Linked DNA regions of Homo sapiens: region 1 is linked to region 2. Evidence: fine-mapped expression QTL. Tissue or cell type: whole blood. Region 2 holds a variant in brackets; the other region holds the start of a gene. All regions are shown on one strand. Distances are between the middles of the regions. Region 1 holds the start of CHST2 (carbohydrate sulfotransferase 2). Region 2 has its middle 37 kb from the start of CHST2.

Evidence for each region. PIP is the estimated chance that this variant, and not a neighbour inherited with it, causes the effect.
Region 1: CHST2 starts here. The variant in region 2 is fine-mapped to the expression of CHST2 in whole blood (INTERVAL, PIP above 0.99).

Annotation. Positions count from the first base shown.
Region 1 is chr3:143,115,416-143,123,749 of GRCh38, forward strand. CHST2 (carbohydrate sulfotransferase 2) reads left to right here and starts at 4,356. Exons shown (of 2, transcript NM_004267.5): 1 at 4,356-5,126; 2 at 5,229-8,334. The coding sequence starts at 5,402. The coding sequence ends at 6,994. RefSeq lists enhancers at 3,412-3,913, 3,589-3,718, 3,914-4,413, 4,699-4,748, 5,072-5,713 and 2 more and silencers at 4,179-4,468, 4,959-5,008, 5,039-5,088, 5,139-5,218, 5,279-5,478 and 1 more.
Region 2 is chr3:143,152,790-143,161,123 of GRCh38, forward strand. No RefSeq gene overlaps it. Among named protein-coding and RNA genes, the nearest start is that of CHST2, 37 kb to the left of the region's middle. The variant T/A (reference allele first, on the strand shown) is at 3,192.

The sequences.
Region 1 (8,334 bases), 37 kb before region 2:
TTACCATTCTCAAAAATAATCTTATTTGTTTAAATGTGTGTGCACTGAGTATCTCCCACTCTAGAGTGTAAACTTCATGAAGGTAGGGTCTAGGCCTGTCTGCTTCACTTTTGCATCTCACATAGCTAGACCAGCACCTGGTACATTATAGGTGCTTACTAAATATTTATTGTCATCCTTATATTTCTGGGATAAACCCAAATTGGTTCTAGTTTATTGTCCTTTTTTCCCCACTTGAGTGGATTTGTTTTGCTTATATTTTATTTAAGAGTTTTATGTATAAATTAATCAGAGACAGTACCAAATTTCTTCTCTGAAATCCCTCTGTAGTTATTATCCCCTTTGAATGAGTTGGGGGAAATATTCCCTCTTGTTCTCTTCTCTGATAGAGATAAGACTGAAACAATCTAGTTCTTGAAAGTTTGGTGGAACCCTCCTTTAAATCCCTCTGGTAATAGTGTTGTTTCAATTTGTAAGTACTGTTTTTCTTCTTTTTCTTTCTTTTCCTTCCTTTTCTTTTTTTTTGAGACAGAGTCTCATTCTGTTGCCCAGGCTGGAGTGCAGTGGCGCGATCTTGGCTCACTGCAACCTCTGCCTCCCGGGTTCAAGCAATTCTCCTGCCTCAGCCTCCCGAGTAGCTGGGACTACAGGTGCGCACCACCAAACCAGGCTAATTTTTGTATTTTTAGCAGAGACGGGGTTTCAGCCTGGTCTCAAACTCCTGACCTCGGGTGATCTGCCCAACTCGGCCTCCCAAAGTGCTGGGATTACAGGTGTGAGCCACCGTGCCCAACCTCTTTTTCTTTTTTTTTTTTTTGAGACTGGGTCTCACTCTGTTGCCCAGGTTGGAGTGCAGTGGCACCATTATGGCTCACTGCAGCCTTGACCTCCTGGGGTCAGGTAATTCTCCCATCTCAGTCTCCCGAGTTGCTGGGACTACAGGCATGCACTGCCACACTTGGCTAATTTTTTTGTAGTTTTTGTAGAGATGGGGTTTTGCCATGTTGCCCAGGTTGGTCTCAAGCTCCTAGGCTCAAGTGATATGCCCACCTCAGCCTCCCAAAGTGTTGGGATTACAGGCATGAGCCACCGTGCCCGGCCATAAGTAGTCTTGTATCTTTTTGAGATTGTTAAAGCAAGTTGTTTTTCCTTCCTGTTAGAACTTTATCATTTCATCTCAGTTTCTAAACTAAGTAGAGCGGTTACTCTTGGAGGTTTTTGGGCTGTGTAATGGGTTCATGCATATTCATTATATTAAAACATAGGACATTTAAAAGGGCCACTTGGACTAACAATGGCAGCATATCTTAAATCAAGGATTATGAGTAACCTGAATCTATAATCTCAAGTTCTATTGAAAATGCATATTTGTTCAAAATATGAGGGAGTGAATCTATCTTGGTGCCCAGGGGCAAACATTTTCCAAAGGTGAATCTTCTAGGATTCACACAGATAGGCCCAAATGGGAACTGTTCAGGTAACCCAGCCTTGCATCTTTCCCCAGTTCAGACTCTGGAAGAAAGTCCTTGAAGATCTCTGGACATTTGTCCAGGATTAAGCAAAAGCCACAGCAAGTTTCTTTCACTCGCATCAGTGTGAAGAGACCACCAAACAGGCTTTGTGTGAGCAATAAAGCTTTTTAATCACCTGGGTGCAGGCGGGCTGAGTCCGAAAAGAGAGTCAGTGAAGGGAGATAGGCGTGGGGCCGTTTTATAGGATTTGGGCAGGTAAAGGAAAATTACAGTCAAAGGGGGTTGTTCTCTGGTGGGCAGGTGTGGAGGGGGGGATCACAAGGTGCTCAGTGGGGGAGCTTTTTGAGCCAGGATGAGCCAGGAGAAGGAATTTCACAAGGTAATGTCATCAGTTAAGGCAGGACCTGCCATTTTCACTTCTTTTGTAGTGGAATGTCATCAGTTAAGGCAAGGACCAGCCATCTGGATGTGTACATGCAGGTCACAGGGGATATGATGGCTTAGCTTTGGCTCAGAGGCCTGACAGTTTCCAATAGAACATAACAGGCAGCAGAGAAGACAGAGACTGAAAGAGCATCCTGGGGGAGATGGAATTGTGACAAACTAAACCAGTGAGCCGAAATTAAGGCTAGCCCTGTGGCATGACTGGCTCTTGTGCAAGTGACATTATTATGTGACATATTATATGTCTGGGTCATTACTATGCTAAAATAAGTAGATTAAAATGAAAGGAATTTCCAAACAAATGCGGGAAGGAAGGCATTATGAAGTTTTCAGATGTCATTAGCTATAACAAAGTTCAGAATTAATCATGACACCATGCAAAATGGGAAAAATTTGCAAGCAAGGAGAGGGTGGAGATGCCAGAACCCGTAAATTTATGCCAGCTGAGCACTGTGGGGGCACCTGGCAAATGGATTTACTATTTTGCCAACACCAGTAAAGTGTTACAAAATTGCAAACGGAATTATTTCTATGCAAACAATTGTTTTTAAAAAGGGTCCCTACATCGACTAATGCAATTCAGTTTTTTTCTGGGTAAGCACAAAGCCAGAAACTAAATGAAAAATATTAGAAATTATTTTTCTTGGAATCATGTTGAATATTAAAATTGAGATTTACTTTCCTCCCCAATTCCCTCTCTCTCCCATCAGTCTTTTCATGCACCAATGTCATTTTAGTTTTCGTGGTAAAAGAGGTGGTGAAAAAGGGGCAGGGGCATTTGAGAGAGTAGGCGAAGGGAGGCTGGGGATTCCAGAAAAGGAAAAGATGGGGAGTCGCTCAATTAAACTCTACCACCTTCATCTGTTAACAGGGATTCTTGCCTGTCTCGACCCACTTCCAGAGGCAATGCCATATTATTTGAGAAAGCTGGATATAAAATTTGAGCTCTGCTGTCCTTGTCCCAATCCCCCTCCCCAGGAGAAAAAATAAGCTGAACTGTACTCGTGACATTATGGGTTTTTCTGGAAAACAAGGATAAATAAGTTTTTTGAACATTTTTCTCCCCTGAAACTAAATCCGTAAGAGAGTTAAAAACCCGTGGAAAGCGAGTTAAGTCACTTTTCAAGTCTTTGTACTCAGGGGATTCTGTAAGACTCATGGAAGAATAATGGCGCAAACAGCAATATTTTAATGTTAGAACGGTCCTCTGAAAAGTCTGCCCGAAACGCTACAAAGATAATTGTGCAGTAACTTCTAAAAACTCTACTGGGACAGGAGGCAACAAAACTCCGGATCAGCGAGAGCTCTGTTTATCCGAGGGTGCTGAGCCTCAGGCCCCACGGAGATTCCCTTTTCGGCACTTGGAGGCCTGAACTCAGGTCTAACCTTTCGTGTGCGCGCTCTGATACTCAACCACCGTTCAGTCTCCGGAGGCTGTTACAACTGTCCCCATTCTACAGATGAAGTTGAGGCTACAGCTTAGTGTTCTTGGGGAGGGAGGGAGTTGGGGGGAGAGAGAGACGCTTTTCCTCATAACCTTAAACAAAAGTACTTAAACCTAAAGCAACTGAAAAATGATTTTCTTTCAACAACGGTGTTTCCTTTGGGGTCAAGTTCTTTGATCTCATCTACAAAACCAAGAAGCGGGACAAGTATTTTTCTGCAAATTAGAACGGGGCGTTCCCCTCCCCCATCACCCCAATTCCAGAGGACGTCAATCACAGTGGACGCAGCACCGCGAGCGGAAATGCGGAGAGCATCGGGGCTCCGCATGTGGGGCACAATGAAACAAGAGCAGCCCCGGCCAGAGGTCCAGTAAAGCGGAAAGACGGTCCCGCCCGCACACCCCTCCGGAAAACTGAAGCGTCTCCTCTGACCCCCAAGGTCAGAAAGATTTATTACTTCCTTCGAGAGGGCGCAGCCACAGACCCACTAGAGAGGGCGGGCAGGGTGTCGGAAGCCAGAGAACGGCGCTCCGCGTCCTCCCACCGCTCCAGGGCGCAGAGGTGTCCTCAGTGCCCGGAGAGGTTGGCAGTGTCGGCCCCGAGGGAAGCGTGGAGCGGACGGCCGACAGGGGATTTCTGCCCAAACTTCATCACCAACTCTTTCTGAGAGCAAAAACATGGGGCCGAGTCCGGCAGCTGCACGCAGAATCCAACTCTCTGGCAGCTCTCGGCACCGACGAGCTCCAGATCCCGCGTTCGCATCCCGGCGCTTTGCGCGCAGAGCTAAGCCTTCGGACCCGTGGACTGCAGCCCCCGCGCGTCGCGGTAAAGCGGGTCGCGTCTCCAGCCCCCGAGGCGCAGCGACGGTGGGAGCCGGCTCGGCGTTGGGGGCGGGGGCGGGGCCGGCGAAGGGGGAGGGCTGCGCGGCGGAGGGGAGGAGCCGCGGCGACAGACGGCGGCGCGCACCAACCGGGCGCCGGCTGGCAGGAGCCGCGCAGAGGCTGGTCCGAGCGCGTTGCGGGCGCCCGGCGTAAGGGGAGTCGGGTAGCAGCATCCTCCTGGGCGCCGCTTTCGCGCGGCGGCGGCGGCTGCGGCGGGGTCTTTCTTTGCTTAAATACCTCGTTGGCCAGAAGCGCTGGTACCGGGGGCGGGTTGGGTCGGGTCGGGCAGTGCTGCACACCTGGGTTTCCTTGCCTAGAGCTGTGTGTTCGGGGTCCTTTGGTCCAGTCGGAGGCTGCGGAGCGGCGGGGGTTGCCTGCGCTGTCCGCCCGGGCATCCTCCCGGTGATGGAAGCAGCCGCCGCCGCCGCTGCGGGGTCGCGCTGTGCCCCATCCACCGCTGCCAGAGAGGTGGGAAAATTCGCCGCACGGAGGCCGAAAGCGAGAGGGGCTGCGCCGCTATGCCGGGAGCTGAGTCCCATATAAGCCGCCCCCAGCCATCGCCCCCAGCCGGCTTCGTTCCCCTGAGCGAGACAGGAAGCTGCGGTCCCGAGAAAGCGGAGGAGACGTCGCTGGAGCCGGGAGGCGCCGGGTTCGGCGGAGCGCGGAGCGGGGCTCTGGGCCGCGTGAAAGTTTTTCTTCCCGAGCCGCAGGGCGCCCGCTGCCCGGAAACTGCCCAGGGATAAGTCGGCCGACTCCCCAGACCCCTCGAAGGTGCGGGGACCCCCAGCGGAAGCGAGAGGGAGCGAAATCGAGGAACGAGTGACAGCCGGACAGTCCGCCGGGCGGTGATCCGGGGCCGCTCCCGGGCGCGCCCTCGGCTCCAGGTGAGCGGAGGAACCGGGCAGAACCGAGGGTGGGCGTTACTTAGGAGGAGGAGGCTGGGAGGGAGATTGGGGCGCATCCGCTCACTCCGCTTCCCCTCGCAGGTCCTACCCGGAGCCGCTGCCATGGGAGAGCCAGCCTTGGGCGCTGGGGACCAGCCGCCGCGCCCGCCTCGGAGTCGCGGCCCGAGTCCCGGCGCCAGCAGCCAGCCCGCTGCGTCCCCTTCCCGGGCTGCAGGGCTGCCTCCGCCGCGCCGCCGGCCCGGATTGTGCCTGTGATGAGCCGCAGCCCGCAGCGAGCTCTGCCCCCGGGCGCGCTCCCTCGGCTGCTCCAGGCTGCGCCTGCAGCCGCGCCGCGTGCCCTGCTCCCGCAGTGGCCCCGGCGCCCAGGACGCCGCTGGCCCGCGTCCCCTCTCGGAATGAAGGTGTTCCGTAGGAAGGCGCTGGTGTTGTGCGCGGGCTATGCACTGCTGCTGGTGCTCACTATGCTCAACCTCCTGGACTACAAGTGGCACAAGGAGCCGCTGCAGCAGTGCAACCCCGATGGGCCGCTGGGTGCCGCAGCGGGGGCAGCCGGAGGCAGCTGGGGGCGCCCAGGGCCGCCTCCGGCCGGGCCGCCCCGTGCTCATGCCCGTTTGGACCTCCGCACTCCTTACCGCCCTCCCGCTGCCGCCGTCGGGGCGGCTCCTGCAGCCGCGGCAGGGATGGCGGGGGTTGCGGCCCCTCCAGGCAATGGCACTCGGGGCACCGGGGGCGTCGGGGACAAGCGGCAGCTGGTGTACGTGTTCACCACGTGGCGCTCTGGCTCGTCGTTCTTCGGCGAGCTATTCAACCAGAATCCCGAGGTGTTCTTTCTCTACGAGCCAGTGTGGCATGTATGGCAAAAACTGTATCCGGGGGACGCCGTTTCCCTGCAGGGGGCAGCGCGGGACATGCTGAGCGCTCTTTACCGCTGCGACCTCTCTGTCTTCCAGTTGTATAGCCCCGCGGGCAGCGGGGGGCGCAACCTCACCACGCTGGGCATCTTCGGCGCAGCCACCAACAAGGTGGTGTGCTCGTCACCACTCTGCCCCGCCTACCGCAAGGAGGTCGTGGGGTTGGTGGACGACCGCGTGTGCAAGAAGTGCCCGCCACAGCGCCTGGCGCGTTTCGAGGAGGAGTGCCGCAAGTACCGCACACTAGTCATAAAGGGTGTGCGCGTCTTCGACGTGGCGGTCTTGGCGCCACTGCTGCGAGACCCGGCCCTGGACCTCAAGGTCATCCACTTGGTGCGTGATCCCCGCGCGGTGGCGAGTTCACGGATCCGCTCGCGCCACGGCCTCATCCGTGAGAGCCTACAGGTGGTGCGCAGCCGAGACCCGCGAGCTCACCGCATGCCCTTCTTGGAGGCCGCGGGCCACAAGCTTGGCGCCAAGAAGGAGGGCGTGGGCGGCCCCGCAGACTACCACGCTCTGGGCGCTATGGAGGTCATCTGCAATAGTATGGCTAAGACGCTGCAGACAGCCCTGCAGCCCCCTGACTGGCTGCAGGGCCACTACCTGGTGGTGCGGTACGAGGACCTGGTGGGAGACCCCGTCAAGACACTACGGAGAGTGTACGATTTTGTGGGACTGTTGGTGAGCCCCGAAATGGAGCAGTTTGCCCTGAACATGACCAGTGGCTCGGGCTCCTCCTCCAAGCCTTTCGTGGTATCTGCACGCAATGCCACGCAGGCCGCCAATGCCTGGCGGACCGCCCTCACCTTCCAGCAGATCAAACAGGTGGAGGAGTTTTGCTACCAGCCCATGGCCGTCCTGGGCTATGAGCGGGTCAACAGCCCTGAGGAGGTCAAAGACCTCAGCAAGACCCTGCTTCGGAAGCCCCGTCTCTAAAAGGGGTTCCCAGGAGACCTGATTCCCTGTGGTGATACCTATAAAGAGGATCGTAGTGTGTTTAAATAAACACAGTCCAGACTCAAACGGAGGAAGCCCACATATTCTATTATAGATATATAAATAATCACACACACACTTGCTGTCAATGTTTTGAGTCAGTGCATTTCAAGGAACAGCCACAAAATACACACCCCTAAGAAAAGGCAAGACTTGAACGTTCTGACCAGGTGCCCCTCTTCTTCTTTGCCTTCTCTTGTCCTCTTTCTCCTATTTCTTACCCTGTCCTCCACCTGCCTTCCATTTTGAAGTGGGATGTTAATGAAATCAAGTTCCAGTAACCCAAATCTTGTTTACAAAATATTCGTGGTATCTGTGAACATGTTAAGAGTAATTTGGATGTGGGGGTGGGGGTGGAGAAAGGGGAAGTGGTCCAGAAACAAAAAGCCCCATTGGGCATGATAAGCCGAGGAGGCATTCTTCTAAAGCAGACTTTTGTGTAAAAAGCAAAGGTTACATGTGAGTATTAATAAAGAAGATAATAAATAATATTCTTTTTAATATTTGCCTCCATTACTTTGGATTCACCTGTGTTACTTGTCCTCAGCTTCAGATAGAATCTCCTTCCCCTCCCTCGTTTCCATTTTTCCAGTCTCTTTCCTGAAAGGCAGCTAAACTGGGTGGGAGCAATTTTTGCCTCCTTGGTAATAACCTGGGGGATGTTTTCTCACATGTAAATCTCAGCCTGTTAGGTGTCCAGGAGTGAAACACATCTTTGTATTCTAAAGGCAGAAACCAAACAGGGCAGTGGAAGAAAAAGCACACTACTCTCTTCAACTTTGAACACAGGAAGAAGCAACTCCTTCAGGACTTGAAGGCATTTGGTTTTTCATTCCTCTTCAGTTAAAATGGGGAACCTTGAAGCAGAGACCAATGTTTTGGTGCTGAGGCTGGTTCAGAAAAAGGATTTTTAAAAAAAGTATGTAATTTTTAAAAGTTCTGATGATTAGAACACAGACCTCAGGAAAGTAGCGTGAACATACTGCTGGCGATGGTAGCAGCTTCGTTGGTTTAGCAAAGTGACAGAAGTATCTATTTGGAGTGTTTTTCTGACCCTGACACGGTATGTGGAGGTGGATGAAAGCAGCGAAGTTTCATCTGAGAACCGTAAGGGTTTTCCCTTTTCTTACTTGCTTCCCATTTAAATCAGTGCAAGAGAGAATATGAATTTATAATGCTTTACTTGGGATGCCTGTGGAATATGTTGCTTTTCTTTATCATGTTTCCTAAAAGTAAATTTGCAAAGAAAGTAACATGCTGCAGACAGTATAAGGCTTCAG
Region 2 (8,334 bases):
TGGCATTGGCTCTGCTGGTGATGACCTCATAACACCCTGCGTGGGAACTTGGCTGTGCTCATGGCAGCCCAGCTTCCCATTCTCTGCCTGTTTTCAAAGCCTAGATCTTTAGTCTTGCAAACAATTCCAAAAGTGTGCATATCCTTTCAATATACCCCCTTTGGTACAGACTACTACCTTTTCTGGCACACCAAAGAAAAATTAAATTCCCTCCTCCCTCCTGCCCCAGTCCTCTAGAGCAAAATCATGAGAAACTGGCCTGCTGTTCCATTTCAGCCATCATCTTACCTGAGATGGACACTGGTTCATTTCTCATGTGATAGGAATGTCAGTACTCCTTCAGCCCCATCATGATCTGAATTAAGTGCAGGTTTGTTTTCTTTAATGCGTTTGAGGGAGGAGTTTGAAGGAGGTGACCAGTTACTGATGTTTTTACCACACAAGTAATACATGAATGCATGCTTCTCATGAAAGACTCCAACAAGGCAGGAATATTCAGGGGAAAACATGATAGACTCGTCCACTGCAGGCCCCCATCACTCTTGCTTTACTCCAAGGGGCAAGCACTATGAACACTGCTTTGCATTTGTATAGTCTGTACACATTTAAAACACATAAATGGGAATACTATGAATTTTGCTTTGTGACTTGTTTTTTCAATGAACAATTTGGGATAACTTTCCATAAAGGTTCAATATATTCTTCTAATGACTGCATAATATTTTTATACTATATTTTATTTAATCTCTTCCATTTGAGAGTTCCTAATTTTTCATTAGTAGAAAAAATATTCCCATGAACACCTTGTATATTTATGTTCATATGTCAATTTTTTTCTAGAATACATTTTTCTAAAAATTGAGTTTTTTCTAGAATGCGATTACTGAATCAAATATAATACATGTTTATAGTTTTGATAGATGTCATCCAACAGCTTTCCAAAAAGTCTTCACCAATTTACAATCCCTCTAACAGAATGGCCTAGAGTTCAGTCCTGCAGCCCTTTCAATGACTTTATAGGCATTTAACATTTCTGCTTAAAATTGGCAAAGTGGTTTTGATTTCCTGCAACAGAACTCTGCTCAAGATACCGTGCTATGATCTTATGATTCCTTTGCTTAAAACACTTCTGTGACTACCAAACACAGATCAAACTAAAGCATTATATGCTTACCTTGAGCTCCATCTTTACTTAAGGATCCACCACAGCTGCTCTTGCCTCTGCCATCAAGAATGACTCAGCCGCCTGCTGGGTATGAGGGCTCACGCCTGTAATCCCAGCACTTTGGGAGGTTGAGGCAGGCGAATCACTTGAGCCCAGGAGTTCAAGACCAGCCTGGGCAACATGGTGAAACCCTGTCTCTACAAAAATACAAAAATTAGCCAGGCATGGTGGCACATGCTTATAGTCCCAGCTAGTTAGGAGGCCGAGGTAGGAGGATTGCTTGAGCCTGGGAGGTCGAGGTTGCAGTGAGCTATGACGGTGCTGCAGCTCTCCAGCCTGGGTGATGGAGTGAGACCCGGTTTAAAAAAAAAGAGAAAAGAATCCCTCAGCCTGCCTTTCAGGTTTTCCAGAATTTGGCTCCATTCCCCGTTAGTCAGTATGGTTCCCCTGGTTCCTCACATCTATTCCATGCTCCAAATGAATGTGTCTCCCACTGATCTGCTGTATCTGCAATGTGGAACTATCTGGTACCCACCCAGATATACTTGTATCTTCAGGTCTCTGCCTCTTCCTGTCCTAGGCTCAATTGCCTCTCTCAGCCCCAAACTTTTCCTTTTTTTCTTTTTTCCTCTTTTTTTTTTTTTTTTTTGAGATGGGGTCTCGCTCTGTTGCCCAGGCTGGAGTACAGTGGATCACTGTAGCCTCTGCCTTCTGGGTTCAAGTGATTCTCCTGCCTCAGCCTCCTGAGTAGCTGGGATTACAGGTGTCCACCACCAGGCCTGGCTAATTTTTTGTATTTTTTAGTAGAGACGGGGTTTCACCATGTTGGCTAGGCTGGTCTCGAATGCCTGACCTCAGGTGATCCACTCACCTTGGCCTCCCAAAGTGTTGGGATTACAGGTGTGAGCCACCGCACCCGACCACCCCCAACATTTTCTTATCTGTGCACACCAAGCTCAGTACAGCCCCACTCCTTTGAAGGCTGCCCCGGGGATGCCAGCTCACATTTCTCTACTTTTGTGTGTGCTGTGCTCTGCTGCACACTGTCCCACTCGCTACTGGATCTTAGCACTTGCTTGTAATAGAATGTAAAGCTATTATTTGATAATTATTTAACATATGTGTACATTTTGTCCCAATTTAGAATGTAAGGCCCTTATGTGAAAGGTACCATATCTCGTTTTCCCTTTGTAGTCTTAAATGTTTAAAACAAGAGAAAAGAAAGGATATTTATTAAATACCTGCCATGGATTAAGTGCTTTTTTAACCATGACCTTATTTAATATTCACAACAATCCTGGAAAGATATTTTCATATTTCAGAGATATTAAACAACTTTGCCCTGAGAAATCCCCAAAGCTGAAATTCAGAATTGACTCAGTCCAGTGCCATAGTGCTTCTTTAATGTGATGTCTGGCCAGTTGCCCTCTAGGACTTTATATACCAGAGTGGCAGAGGTGGTGGACACTTACTATGGGTAATTAACTAATGAAAAGTGAAAGTATGCCTTATTTGCCTAGAAAGATATTTCAGGACTCCCAATGTATTTACTCTGTATGCTTTTATTTTCCTTCAGATATTAAAAAACTTATTTTGAGATCATTTATGATTTACAGAGGAGTTACAAAAATAGTGCGGGGTTCCCATATACTCTTTACCAAGCTTCCTCTAGCATTAAAATCTTAAATAACTACAGTATAATTATGAAAACTAAGAGATGAACACTGGTATAATACTATTAACTAAACTATAGGCTTTATTAGAATTTTCCCAGTTTTTGTTTTTTTTACTAAGTGTCTATTTCTATTTCAAAATCCAATGCATCATACTCAGTCACTCTCACCACTTCTATTTAACACAGGACTGGAAGTCCTACAGCAATTAGGCAAGCTAGAACAACTAGGCAAGAAAAAGAAATGAAAGGCATTCAAATTGGAAAGGAAGAAGTAAAATTATCTCTGTTCACAGATGACGTAAACTTACAGGTAGAAAATTCTAAAGATTGCACAAGTAAACTGTTAAGTAA[T/A]AAATGAATCGTGCAAACTTGCAGGTTACAAAATCACCACACCAAGAAAACAGCTGCATTTTTATAGACTAGCAATGAACGATCTGAAAGGACCGTTTACATTAACATCAAAGAGAATAAAATAGTAGGAATACACTTAACCAAGAGGGTAAAAGATTTGAACACTAAAAACTACAAAACATTGCTGAAAGAAATCAAAGAAGATGTAAATAAATGGAAAGATATCCCATGTTAATTAATTGGAAGACTTAATATTGTTAAGATGCCCATACTACCCAAAGTGATCTATGCATTCAAAACAATCCCTATCAAAATCTCAATGGCACTTTCTTTACAGAAATAAAAAAAATTCCAAAATTTATATAGAACCACAAAAGACCATGAGTAGCGAAGTCAATCTTGAAAAAGAACAATAAAGCTGGAGGTATCAGCTTTTGGAAATATTTCCTGATACTTTAAAATCAGGAAATACTCCTTATGCCACGCACAAAATTTTGAAATCATGAAATACTTCTTACACCCTGCACAAAAGTTAACTCAAAATGGATTGAAGACTTAAACATAAGAGCTAAAACTATAAAACTCTTAGAAGAAAACACACGAGAAAAGCTTAGTGACTGGATTTAGCAATGATTTCTTGGATATTATGCCAAAAAATAGATAAATTGGATTTCATCAAAATTAATTTTTTGTGCATCAAAGGATACTATCTAGAAGATAAAGGCAACCTACAAAATGGGAGAAAACTTTTGTAAATCATATACTGGTAAGAGATTAATATCCAGGATATTTAAAGAACTCCAAAAACTTAGTAAAAACCACCACAACAAAGCAGTTCAATTAAACATGAGCAAATGACTTGATACTGATATTTCTTCAAGGGAGATATACAAATGGCCAAGAAGTACATGAAAAAACACTCAACATCAGAAATCATTAGGGAAATGCAAATTGAAACCTCAATGAGGTACCACATCACGCCTCTTAGGATGGCTATTATCCTCAAAACAGAAAACAAGTGTTGGTGAGAATATGGAGAAATTAGAACCCTTGCGTATTGCCTTAGGGAGTATAAAATGGTGCAGTCACTGTGGAAGACAATATGGCAGTCCCTAAAAAAAGTGAAATGTAAAACTACCAGATGATCCAGCAATTCCACTTTTATGTATATACCCCAAAGAATCAAAAGCAGAGACTTGGTCAGACATTTGTACTGTAAAGTCCATAGCAACATTATTCACAATAGCCAAAAGGTGGTGGAAGAAGCTCAAATGCCTATTAATGGATGAATGGATAAACAAAATGTGGCATATGCATACAATGGAATATTATACAACCTTAAGGAATGAAGTTTTTATGCATGCTGCAACATGGATGAACCTTGAAAACATTATGCAAAGTGAAATAAGCCAGACACAAAAGGATAAATGTTACGTGATCCCACTTATATGAAGTATCTAGAATAGTCAAGTTCATAGAGGAATGAAAGTAGACTGGTGGTTACTAGGAGCTGGATGGAGGGGACAATGGGGAGTTATTGTTCAAAGGGCATGAACATTTCAGTTCAGAAGGATAGAAAAATTCTGGAGGTAGATGGTGATGGTTGCATAACGATGTGAATGTACTTAATATCATTGCATTGTACACCTAAAAAGGATTAAGATGGTAAGTTTTATGTTATGTATATTTTGCCAGAATAAAATAAAATAGCCATAAGTTCACACTGCTATCTCTGGCTCCAATCCAGCCCCACAGGGTTTATTCTAGCCATCTCCCTTTCTTTATTGATAACTTCTTTCTCTAACAGAAAGAAACTTGGTTTTCATTATCTATAATATGTTTACTTATAATGTTCAACACTAGCACACAAAGTAGTTTCAGAATTGCTAACTTAGCACGCTTGTGAGAAACAAATTTACCAACTAGAGTACAGTATTTATGTACATTCTTTTTGTCTTTAGCCTTATAGTGTCCAGTCAAGATACTGTTTTCCAAAGTGACTTAGTTCAGATCCTTTCTTCCTCACCTTCTTCAATGTAGTTATGTCATTCATTTGTAATTCAGTTAAGTTCATTTGTCACAGTGCTTACTGGACAGCCAATGAGGTCATGCATTTGGAGTGCCTAATGCACTACCTGGCATGGAGAAGGGCCTTAAGAAATATGAGCTGAACCTGAATTTGTGGCACTGATTAGTGCTGTCCATCAACCTCATTACTTTGGCTCCATGAAATGTCAAAAGAGCTTTGACCAGGTTTCAAGTGTCTGTGACTCAGAACTAAGGTAACTGGCCCACAAGAATCAAGTCAGAAGTGCTGCCCTCATTAGCATCATGTTCTAGACAGCTGAGCCACTTATCATAGGACAACAAATCTGGGGGTTTAAATGGTGAATAACAGTGAAAGATGTGAATCATGCAAGGGACAGAAGATTTCAGGGGTGTAGAACTGTGCAGAAACCCAATGCAATCAGAGCTGATTCCCTCATGTCCTTGTCTCCTGAAATAGCCCACAGTTCTCCACACATTAGCTCTTCCACATTAGTCACCTCTTGATTTCTGTAGTGGATTCTGATGCAGTTCACCAGTGCCAAATGATGCATCTCCCTGGTCACTTGAAATTCAGTTAGGATTTTTTTTGGTTGCAGGCAACAGGAACCAATCCTAGCTAACGTAAGAGAAAAAGAAATGTGCTGGAGGCTATGAGGCAGCTCACAGAATTAAAGGAGCAGCTGTTGGATCTTGTTTCGGGACAACAGTGACTGGGGAAACCCCAGGAAGCACAGTAACAGGAACCAGCCATCACTGTGTCCAGGGCATGGCTGCTAGGATGAGTCAAGTCCAGAAACTTCTTTATGTGTCTCTCCCCTCAAGATTCAATTCTTGAGGGTTTCCCTTGGCCATAGCCTGGGTCACATGCTCATCTTTGGTGGGAAGGCAGAACACCTTGAATAGAGAGTCCCCAGTGGGAGCAGGTGGTAAACCCCAAACAGCAGATGTTCACTACATTCTATGAGGTACTCATCTTCCTCCCATTTAATGTGAGAAATAAGTTAATTTATCAATAAAACAACAAAACAATAGACTCCCCTTTTCCATGTTTCCTACAAGTATTCCAATCCTCACTGCCAGGGCTGTTATGAGCAGGTGGGGTTGGCTTTGCTGTTGTCTGAGTGGTGTTCTGGGCCATCCTTCAGGGCAGTACAAAACCTATGGTCAGGACAGGTCCCTCAGACATTTATCCCAGCTCTTTTCAACCAGCCCTCTGCTATAGGGCTTGGGTGTTGGTTTGAAGCACTAGGATTTTCCCAATTTCACATTTTATGAAAACCTCAAATAACATCCAACTAGAAATTAGGTTGGGTATGAGAGTCAGTTTAATCTAATACCAAGCTTAAGAGCATAAGCTTTGTAAGTAGAATGACTGGAGTTCAAATCCTGATGTGACCACACACTGGCTATATATTCTTTGATGTTATTTAACTTCTTTAAGGCTCAGTTGCCTAATCTGTAAAATATGGAGAGGGTCTAGCAGAGTCAGAGGTAGGAGCAATGGGTTTAGATACTTGGGTTGATTCTCTGGTGCACACTCATTAGCTATATGATCGTGGGCAAGTTACTTAGTGTCTTTTCATCTTTTCCTTATCAGTAAAATGGGATAATGGTAGTACCTTCTTCCAAGATTTGATCTGAGAACTAAATGAAATAATGTGCATAAGTTGCCAGTGTTGTTATTAACACTGAGTTTTCTGGAGGATTACATGAGCTCCTGTATGTGAGGTGCTTGTCGTAAGTCCTTCCTTGCTAGGGCAAGACCTTAGTAAATGGTGGCCACTGATATTGTGTGGCTTCATAGCTGTTTGTGAATTTCCTGTTTTTCCTTACATTGGTAAGGAAAAACAAAATTACATTGGTGTGGGTAATTGAGTTGCTGTGCATGTACATATATATTTTAAGCAAATTTCTTCATATCTGGTAGGAGATTCCCCATTGCTGTTGTTTTCTTCAGATAATTCTAAAAGATTGCAAAGACCTGAGGAGACTTTTAGAAAAATGTTTATAGACTGATTTGATTTGACAATCAAACTGCTTCTTGAGTTTCTGAAATGGTGAGACTTGTCCTTCCCTGCAAGACTCTTTTCATTTTTACAAGGTAGAGCTGAGAATGTATTCTCATAATTTAGCTGAAGGAAACAACAGACAGCCCTTTTTTGAAAAAGTCCGAGTTCTTTGTCCCTGGTTTCCCAACAGATTTGCTGAATTCTCCACTTAACTTTGCTTGTGGAAACAGAAATTCTTGACTGTGTCCTGGTACTAGGGGTCACCCACGGATCCCACGAACAGGATTTGGAAGCTCACCTTCTCATTGGCTGTGGAATCAGGAGGGTTTCTCTTCATAGAACCTGGATTTCATATCTATGTCACACACTCTGCCATTTGGCTTTTTAATTCCTTCTGAGTCGCCGGATGCTGCTGTCCGTCCTCACCCCTGTGTTTCTCTATAGGATACCTAACCTCTCCCCGGGGGACTTCGGTCTCTCACGACCGCCCCATGATTTCCTGCTGATGGTGTCCTTGGGAGGGAAACTGCTCTAAGGGACAAGCTGTTTTGCAGAATTACTTTAACCTCTCAGTCACTGTGTTACCCTCTCGGTGGGCCCCAGGCCTGTGGCTTTCCGGGCTCCCAGACATTCCTGTCCTCCAAGGGCTCTGCTTCTCAGCTGCATTTCCTGGGGTTCTTTGAGCTTCCAGTGTGGACCTCCCCGCCCACAGCTCAGCTCTATAACCTTACATCTTCTGGGAAGATTTGCTTTTTAATTATTCAGAACGACATCTTCAGGACTCCTTAGAAGCTGCCTTGTCTGACAGTGCTTCATGATTCACTCCTCAGTTTCTTTTGTAATTCCTGTGTGTCCAGTAGTTCATACACATTTCATATTTATGACAAAGCTATGGTTTTCTGGCAAATTTAGTTTACAAAGCAGCTCACACACACTGTCTCCACTGACCCTCATAAGACAGGTGTGAAGCAGGCTGAGCAGAGCTGTGGCTTAGGTGAGGGTCCAGATTCTAAATATAGTATATAAGGTGAAAATGGCACATGTCCAGAATTACCTTGGAAAATACTGAAATCATCTCTAAAATG